Linked DNA regions of Homo sapiens. The protein of the gene in region 1 interacts with the protein of each later gene in a pairwise test. Each region holds a gene or a part of one and is shown on either strand. Other genes may lie near its edges.

Region 1 (3,954 bases):
GCACACAGGTGCACGACACACACACAACCTTCCTTTGAGCACTCGTCGGCGTTACAACTTGGGTCCTGATCCCGTGCACTAACATAAAACTCACTCCCAAAGAACCCTAGAAGGCTTCACTTCCTTCCCTAACATTTGAGGGCTGTCAGCCCTTATGTTACTGCTGTCCTATTAAATACCTTCATTTCCCCATGGAAGCTTCTTCAGAAGTCACACTTCAAAAACTAGAGGAGACCTACTATATATATATATATTTTTTTCTCAACTAAAGTAAAACTGATGGCTCCACACACACATGTCTGTTGAAAGAACTAACAGTGTAGAAACAGGGTAGGTGGGAAATTTTCATCTCACTGTTGGCTGACCTGGGTTACCTCTAGACTAACAGTCCAGGCTGGCCCCAGGCTAACCAACCTGGGCTACCTCTAGACTAGCAGTCCAGACTAGTCCCAGACTAACCAATCTGGGCTACCTCTAGACTAACAGTCCAGGCTAGTCCCAGACTAACCAACCTGGGCTACCTCTAGACTAACAGTCCAGACTAGTCCCAGACTAACCAACCTAACCAACCTGGGCTACCTCTAGACTAACAGTCCAGGCTAGTACCAGACTAAACAACCTGGGCTACCTCTAGACTAGCAGTCCAGGCTAGTCTAAGACTAACCAACATGGGCTAGCCCCAGACTAACCAACCTGGGCTAGCCCTAGACTACCTCTAGACTAGCAGTCCTCTAGGCTACCTCTAGACTAGCAGTCCAGGCTAGTCCCAGACTAACCAACCTGGGCTAGCTCCAGACTAAACAACCTGGGCTAGCTCCAGACTAACAAACCTGGGCTAGCCCCAGACTAACCAACCTGGGCTACTAGCCTCAGACTAACCAACCTGGGCTAGCTCCAGACTAACCAACCTGGGCTAGCTCCGATTAACCAACCTGGGCTAGCCCTAGACTAACCAGCCTACGCTAGCCCTAGACTAACCAACCTGGGCTAGCTCCAGACTAACAAACCTAGGCTACTAGCCCCAGACTAACCAGCCTATGCTAGCCCTAGACTAACCAACTTGGGCTAGCTCCAGACTAACCAACCTAGGCTACTAGCCCCAGACTAATCAACCTGTGCTAGCTCCAAACTAACTAACCTGGGCTAGCCCTAGACTAACTAGCCTACACTAGCCCTAGACTAACCAACCTGGGCTAGCCCCAGACTAACCAACCTGGGCTACTAGCCCCAGACTAACCAACCTGGGCTAGCTCCAGACTAACCAACCTGGGCTAGCCCCAGACTAACCAGCCTACGCTAGCCCTAGACTAACCAACCTGGGCTAGCTCCAGGCTAACCAACCTGGGCTACTAGCCCCAGACTAACCAACCTGCGCTAGCTCCAAACTAACCAACCTGGGCTAGCCTTAGACTAACTAGCCTACACTAGCCCTAGACTAACCAACCTGGGCTAGCCCCAGACTAACCAACCTGGGCTAGCCCCAGACTAACCAACCTGGGCTAGCTCTAGACTAACCAACCTGGGCTAGCCCCAGACTAACCAACCGGGGCTAGCTCGAGACTAACCCACCCAGGCTAACCCTAGACTAGCAACTGGGCCTCCTCCGGCCCCTGCTCTGGGCTCCGCCTGTGAAGCTGGGTCCTGGGTTGCCAGCTGCTGGCCCAGGAAGATTCCCTGGAAGATTACCTTGCTTTGGGAGGGGGTGGAAACACCAGGGGACCCCAGTGACACTGGAGTCGAAACAGCATCCATTGTCAAAACACTGGTCACTGGTGATTCCAGGGAAGCCGCAGTTCGTCCTGTTATGGGGGCTCAGCCTGGAGCACTGGCAGGGGGCTGTGGAAAGACCCTCAGTCGGCCCCACCCTGGTACCCCAGACCACACTGCTCCTTCTCTCAGAGGTTCTAGGGGATGCCTCTACTGTCTTGTTGCCACATAGAGAAACACAAAGTCTTATCTTGCCCATATTTAAGCAATGCGGTTTCCTCCTGAGAAGCCGATAGGGCTTTGCTGAAATTGTTATATTAGTTTAAAAGGAAAAAAAAAAAAAAGCCAGGCATGGTGGCTCATACCTATAATCCCAGCACTTTAGGAAGCCGAGGCGGGCAGATTGCTTGAGCTCAGGAGTTCAAGACCATCCTGGGCAACATGTCGAAACCCCATCTCTACAAACAATACAAAAAAAAAAATTGGCCGGGCATGATGGTCCACAACTGTGGTTTCAGCTACTCAGGCGGCTGAGGTGGGAGGATCACTTGAGCCTGGGAGGCAGAGGTTGCAGTGAGCCAAGATCACACCACTGCACTCCTGCCTGGGCGGCAAAGCCAGATCCTGTCTCGGAAAAAAACAAAAACAAAACCCTCCTAGAGGAGGGTGAACAGATGGACCCAAGGCCAAGATCCAGGCGAGAGGTGAGTGCTCTGGGACTCCAAGGACCCTTGGTGGGAATGCCCTCCTGGCCCGACACGGGGCCCGCTGACACCTGCCGTCACTCAGCCTTTCCCTAGGAGGGAGGCCCTTCTTGGAGCCACCCTCCTGAGCAGTGGCAAATCCCATGTGAACAACACACATTGCCAGATGCCTTTATAGCCATTCCCCCTCTCAAGTTAATTTATGGTTGTGCTTTTTTTTTTTCTTTAAGAGAAATAAAGAAAGCACATAAAAAGACCCTCTCCTTCACTTACAGGGTTTCTCACTCCCCGCCAGGGCACATAGCCCCAGGACGAGGAGCGCTGCCAGGAGCTGGGCGTCTCGCCGTCCCATGTCTAGCTCAGCTGCACCCCAGGGTGGCTTGCAGAATGCATGGTGTCCACTGCCGGGTATGTTTTATAATCTCCCCTCTGTTTGTCCAACAAGCAGAGATAACCTTTCTTCTCTGCCCCGTGGCCCCAGCCCTTCCACCGTGGAGGCGAAGAGGAGGCAAGAGGCAGCTGTGCCCTGTGCAGGCGAGGCTTCCGGGCCAGGGTGACTCTCTCCCTGCTCGGTGATACCTCTTCCTGCCCTGGACAGAGAGTTGGGTCATGCCAGGCTGCCAGCGTGGAAAACCGGCCACGTGCAGGTCTGGGGCTGGGCACACACAGGGTCACACCCAGGAAGGGATAAGCTATGCATTTCTATTGATAGAGTGGGCAGGGACCACAGGAATTTAGAAAATATTAGGGCCAAGTTTACTGGGGAAAATGTACAGGCCAGCAGATAGCATGGAAAAGTCCCCTCCCTGAGGAAGGGAAGCATCTCAGAGGAGGTAAGAGACTGCTCCCAGGGCTGTGGTTAGAGCCTCCCCAACCGCAGCACGATGCCCTTTGTCCCATCTTCAGCAGGAGGGGCTGCTCTCCATGGAGATGAGGCTGACAGGGTCAGCGGAGTAGCCTGTGACAGGCAGGTTTTAATAAGTTCATTTTCAGCCAACCCCTGAAATGGGTTATTTTTGTTCCATGGGAATGCTCTACATCTTCTGAAAGATGGCACCTGGGACCCAGCCCATGGCCTTCCTGGGGTAGGATGTGCTGGAGAAGGATTCTGTGGACCTGACAGAGAAGACAGAAGCCAGAGAGTAGACACCCGGAAAGAAAGAGGGAAAAGTGTGGTGGGAAGGACAGAGGGGACCCGAAGTTCCCCACGCCAGGGAAATGACAGGGGGTTGCCAGTCTGTTTCTGATGGTTGAGCAGTCAGGGGCCCAGAGACGCAGGAAACCCAAAATCCTTGGTCCACCACGGGGCTGTCCTCAGGGTCTGGAGAGCAGGCCCCATACTCCAGGCCCCCATCCTCCAGGCCCTCGTCCCCCAGGCTCCATCCTCCAGGCCCCCATTCTCCAGGGCTCCATCCTCTAGGCCCCTGTCCTCCAGGCCCCCATCCTCTAGGCCCTCATCCTCCAGGCTCCATCCTCCAGGCTCCATCCTCCAGGTTTCATCCTTCAGGCCATCATCCTCCAGGCCCCCGTCCTCCAGGCCCCC
Region 2 (3,500 bases), on another chromosome or scaffold:
TACTCGGGAGGCTGAGGCCAGAGAATTGCTTGAACCCGGGAGGTGAAGGTTGCATTGAGTGGAGATTGCGCCACTACACTCCAGCCTGGGCAACAGAGCGAGACTCTGTCTCAAAAAAAAAAAAAAAAATTTGGCCGGGCGCGGCGGCTCACGTCTGTAATCCCAGCATTTTGGGAGGCCAAAGTGGGCAGATCACAAGGTCGGGAGTTTGAGACAAGCCTGGCCAATATGGTGAAATCCCATCTCTACTAAAAATACAAAAAATTTGCCAGGCGTGGCGGCAGTTGCCTCTAGTCCTAGCTACTTGGGAGGCTGAGGCAGGAGAATAGCTTGAACCTGGGAGGCGGAGACTGCAGTGAGCTGAGATCACACCACTGTACTCCAGTCTGGGCGACAGAGCGAGACTCCATCTCAAAAAAAAAAAAAAAAAAATTAGCTGGGTGTAGTGGTGCATGCCTGTAATCCCAGCTACTTGGGCGGCTGAGGCACAATAATTGCTTGAACCTGGGAGGTGGAGGTTGCAGCGAGCAGAGATCACACCACTGAACCCCAGACTGGGCAACAGAGCAAGACTCTGTCTCAAAAAAAAAAAAAAAAAACCCAGGATATTTTACAGAAGACTGGTTCTGGCCTCTCTTGAGGCACCAGCAGATCTGGCTGCCTTGAGCCAAGTGGTGGCTGCCCTTGGTAAAAGGGGGAAATGGCTGCAATCCCCCACCACTCCAAACAACTTCTTGGCATGCTCTTTCTTCAAGCTGAGACAGAGGTCTGGGTACTACATACCTAGCACAAGTGGGAAGATACAGATCAAGGGGCTATGTGTGTGTGAATATCAACTGTTTGTGAATGGGCACATGATACCCATGAGTGGAAGTACACAGGCTCACCCATAGCACTGTCCATGAACGACCAGAAACGGTCAGTGATGGGTCCCCACCCGTGCTGCCTACCGTGTGGCGAGTAGACTCGAAGGTTGATGGGCACTGGGGAGATGCCTTTGTTGGTCCCCGTGACCCTGTCGGTCTCTGCTTCAATCTCCTGCCGGACTTCATCAAAGTCTGTAAACTTTTTGGACTTGCAGTGCAAAAACTCGGCATGTTCTAGAAAGGGAAGAGAGATGCTGAAAATGAGAAAGAGCTGTGGGCAGGGTGCGCATGGACTGCGGGGAGAAATGCTTTGTTGAATGAAAGTAATGACCCAGGCTGGGCACAGTAGCTCACGCCTGTAATCCCAGCACTTTGGGAGGCAGAGGTGGGCAGATCACAAGGTCAGGAGATTCAGACCATCCTCACTAACATGGTGAAACCCTGTCTCTACTAAAAATACAAAAAATTAGCCTGGCATGGTGGCACATGCCTGTAGTCTCAGCTACTCAGGAGGCTGAGGCAGGATAATTGCTTGAACCCGGGAGGCGGAGGTTGTAGTGAGCCGAGATTGCGCCACTGCACTCTAGCCTGGGAGACAGAGAAGACTCCATCTCAAAAAAATAAAAAAATAAATAAAATAAAATAAAATAAAATAAAAAAGAAAATAATGACCCAATCATCGTCACTCTAGGAATTTGGGAGTGAAAGATTCGTTCTCATGACAAGGGTCTTGGGGGAGGCGGGGGTTCCTATAGACTGAATAGACTGAGCCTCTTTCCAGATCCTGAAGATTACGTTCCCATGTGGCACTTTGCAAACTGTTAATATACGTCATGACATATTATGAATCCCCCTCCCCCAAAAATAAACAGGTAGACATAACCAATGACCAAAGTTTCTGGGATTACAGGCATATGCCTCCACGCCCAGCCATTTATTTGTTGATTGACTGATGAACAGAAGAGGAAGCACCAGGATACATCACCCAGAGAGGGTGAGTCCATTTGATTAAGGTGATGCTGCAGAGCCTCCCTTGCTGTGGGTCCCAGTCAAGGGAGTTCGATGCCCAAGTCCTTGTGGATTCATGGTCCACCAGCACATTCCAGCTCCACAAAATCCCCAGGGGTATTTCTCATGGCACTCACTTGTCCTTCTTCCCCAAGGAGCCCACAAGGTAGAGGGAAGGGGCACCCCTGCCGCCTCCTCAGAGCTGGTCTTGAGTCTTTCTTTCTCCCCCTGACTATTCAAGAGGGCCCCCTACCTAGAGACAAATCCCCCAGGAGAAATGTTTTCTGGGTATAACCCTGAGTGTATATAAGACCCGGGGGTATCTGAAAGTCACAGCAAGACTGGGATGAAGGGGAACAAAATAAGTAATTGACAAGCAGTGTGGGTCCCACCAGGAAACAAGAGAAATCCAGTCCCGAATCACAGATTGAGGACAAAGCAAATATAAGGCATGTTCATCACGGAAGGTGGCTGCCGAGTACACAGGTGTCCACTGTACAAAGCCTTGACGTTTCCAGATGTTCGAATTTTCAGAGTAAAATGTTGGGGAGGGGATATCCCCAAAGCTCAGAGATCACAGCTACTGTAGTGATGCTAAAAATAAGGGGGAAATGGCTGGGCACAGTGGCTCACGCCTATTATCCAGCACTGTGGGACGCCGAGGAGGGTGGATCACTTGAGCCCAGGAGTTCAAGACCGGCCTGGGTGACACAGTGAGACCCCGTCTCTACAGAAATTTAAAAAATTAGCCAGGCATGTTGGCGCACACCTGTAGTTCCAGCTACTTGGGAGGCTGATATGGTCTGGCTCTGTGTCCCCACCCAAATCTCATCTTGTAGCTCCCATAATTCCCTTGTGTTGTAGCAGGGACCCAGTGGGAGATCAATGAATCATGGGGGTGGGTCTTTCCCGTGCTATTCTCGTGATAGAGAATAAGTCTCACGAGATCTGATGGTTTTAAAAACAGGAGTTTCCCTGCAGAAGCTCTCTCACTCTCTTTGCCAGCTGCCATCCGTATAAGATGTGACTTGCTCCTCCTTGCCTTCTGCCATGATTGTGGGGCTTCCCCAGCCCAGCTGTGTGGAACTGTAACTCCATTAAACCTCTTTCTTTTGTAAATTGCCCGGTCTCAAATACGTCTTTATCAGCAGCATGAAAATGGATTAATATCGGCTGAAGTGGGAGGATCATTTGAGCCAGGAGCTGGAGGTTGCAGTGAGCTATGATCTATGATCACACCACTGCATTCCAGCCTGGCGACAGAGCAAGACACTGTCTCAAAAAGAAAAACAAAGAAAGAAAGGGGTAATAAGTCACACTGGCAAAGAGGTCAGAGACCTGACCCACCCCGGAGATGCGAAGATGCGCACTGCCCTGTCGTTTTTAAGAGTAAAAAAATGAAAATGGCCTCAACGTCCACCAGGAGGAGACCTGGCGACGTGAATAACACAGCCATGCCATAAACTGCCTCAAGCAAAGGCAAAAAGGGAGATGAACACCCAGCCAGGTCTAGAATCTTCAAGGCAGAAAGAAGAGTGTGAGGAGTTTCACCGTCCCATCATGGCAACCGAAGAAACTACGGCACTCTGGCCAGGCCCTGCGTGTGGTCCCGTTGCGCCTCACAAG

Evidence for each region. The genes of interacting proteins can lie anywhere in the genome.
Region 2: the proteins of TFF2 (region 1) and DNM2 interact in binary tests that used the Homo sapiens proteins (3 or more experiments, as listed by UniProt).

Annotation. Positions count from the first base shown.
Region 1 is NC_000021.9:42,348,195-42,352,148, forward strand, and holds the start of TFF2 (trefoil factor 2 precursor), read right to left. Parts: upstream 2,801-3,954; 5' UTR 2,764-2,800; coding exon 2,685-2,763; intron 1,837-2,684; coding exon 1,687-1,836; intron 1-1,686. UniProt on the Homo sapiens protein: Inhibits gastrointestinal motility and gastric acid secretion. Could function as a structural component of gastric mucus, possibly by stabilizing glycoproteins in the mucus gel through interactions with carbohydrate side chains.
Region 2 is NC_000019.10:10,770,079-10,773,578, reverse strand, and holds part of DNM2 (dynamin-2), read right to left. Parts: intron 1,101-3,500; coding exon 951-1,100; intron 1-950. UniProt on the Homo sapiens protein: Catalyzes the hydrolysis of GTP and utilizes this energy to mediate vesicle scission at plasma membrane during endocytosis and filament remodeling at many actin structures during organization of the actin cytoskeleton.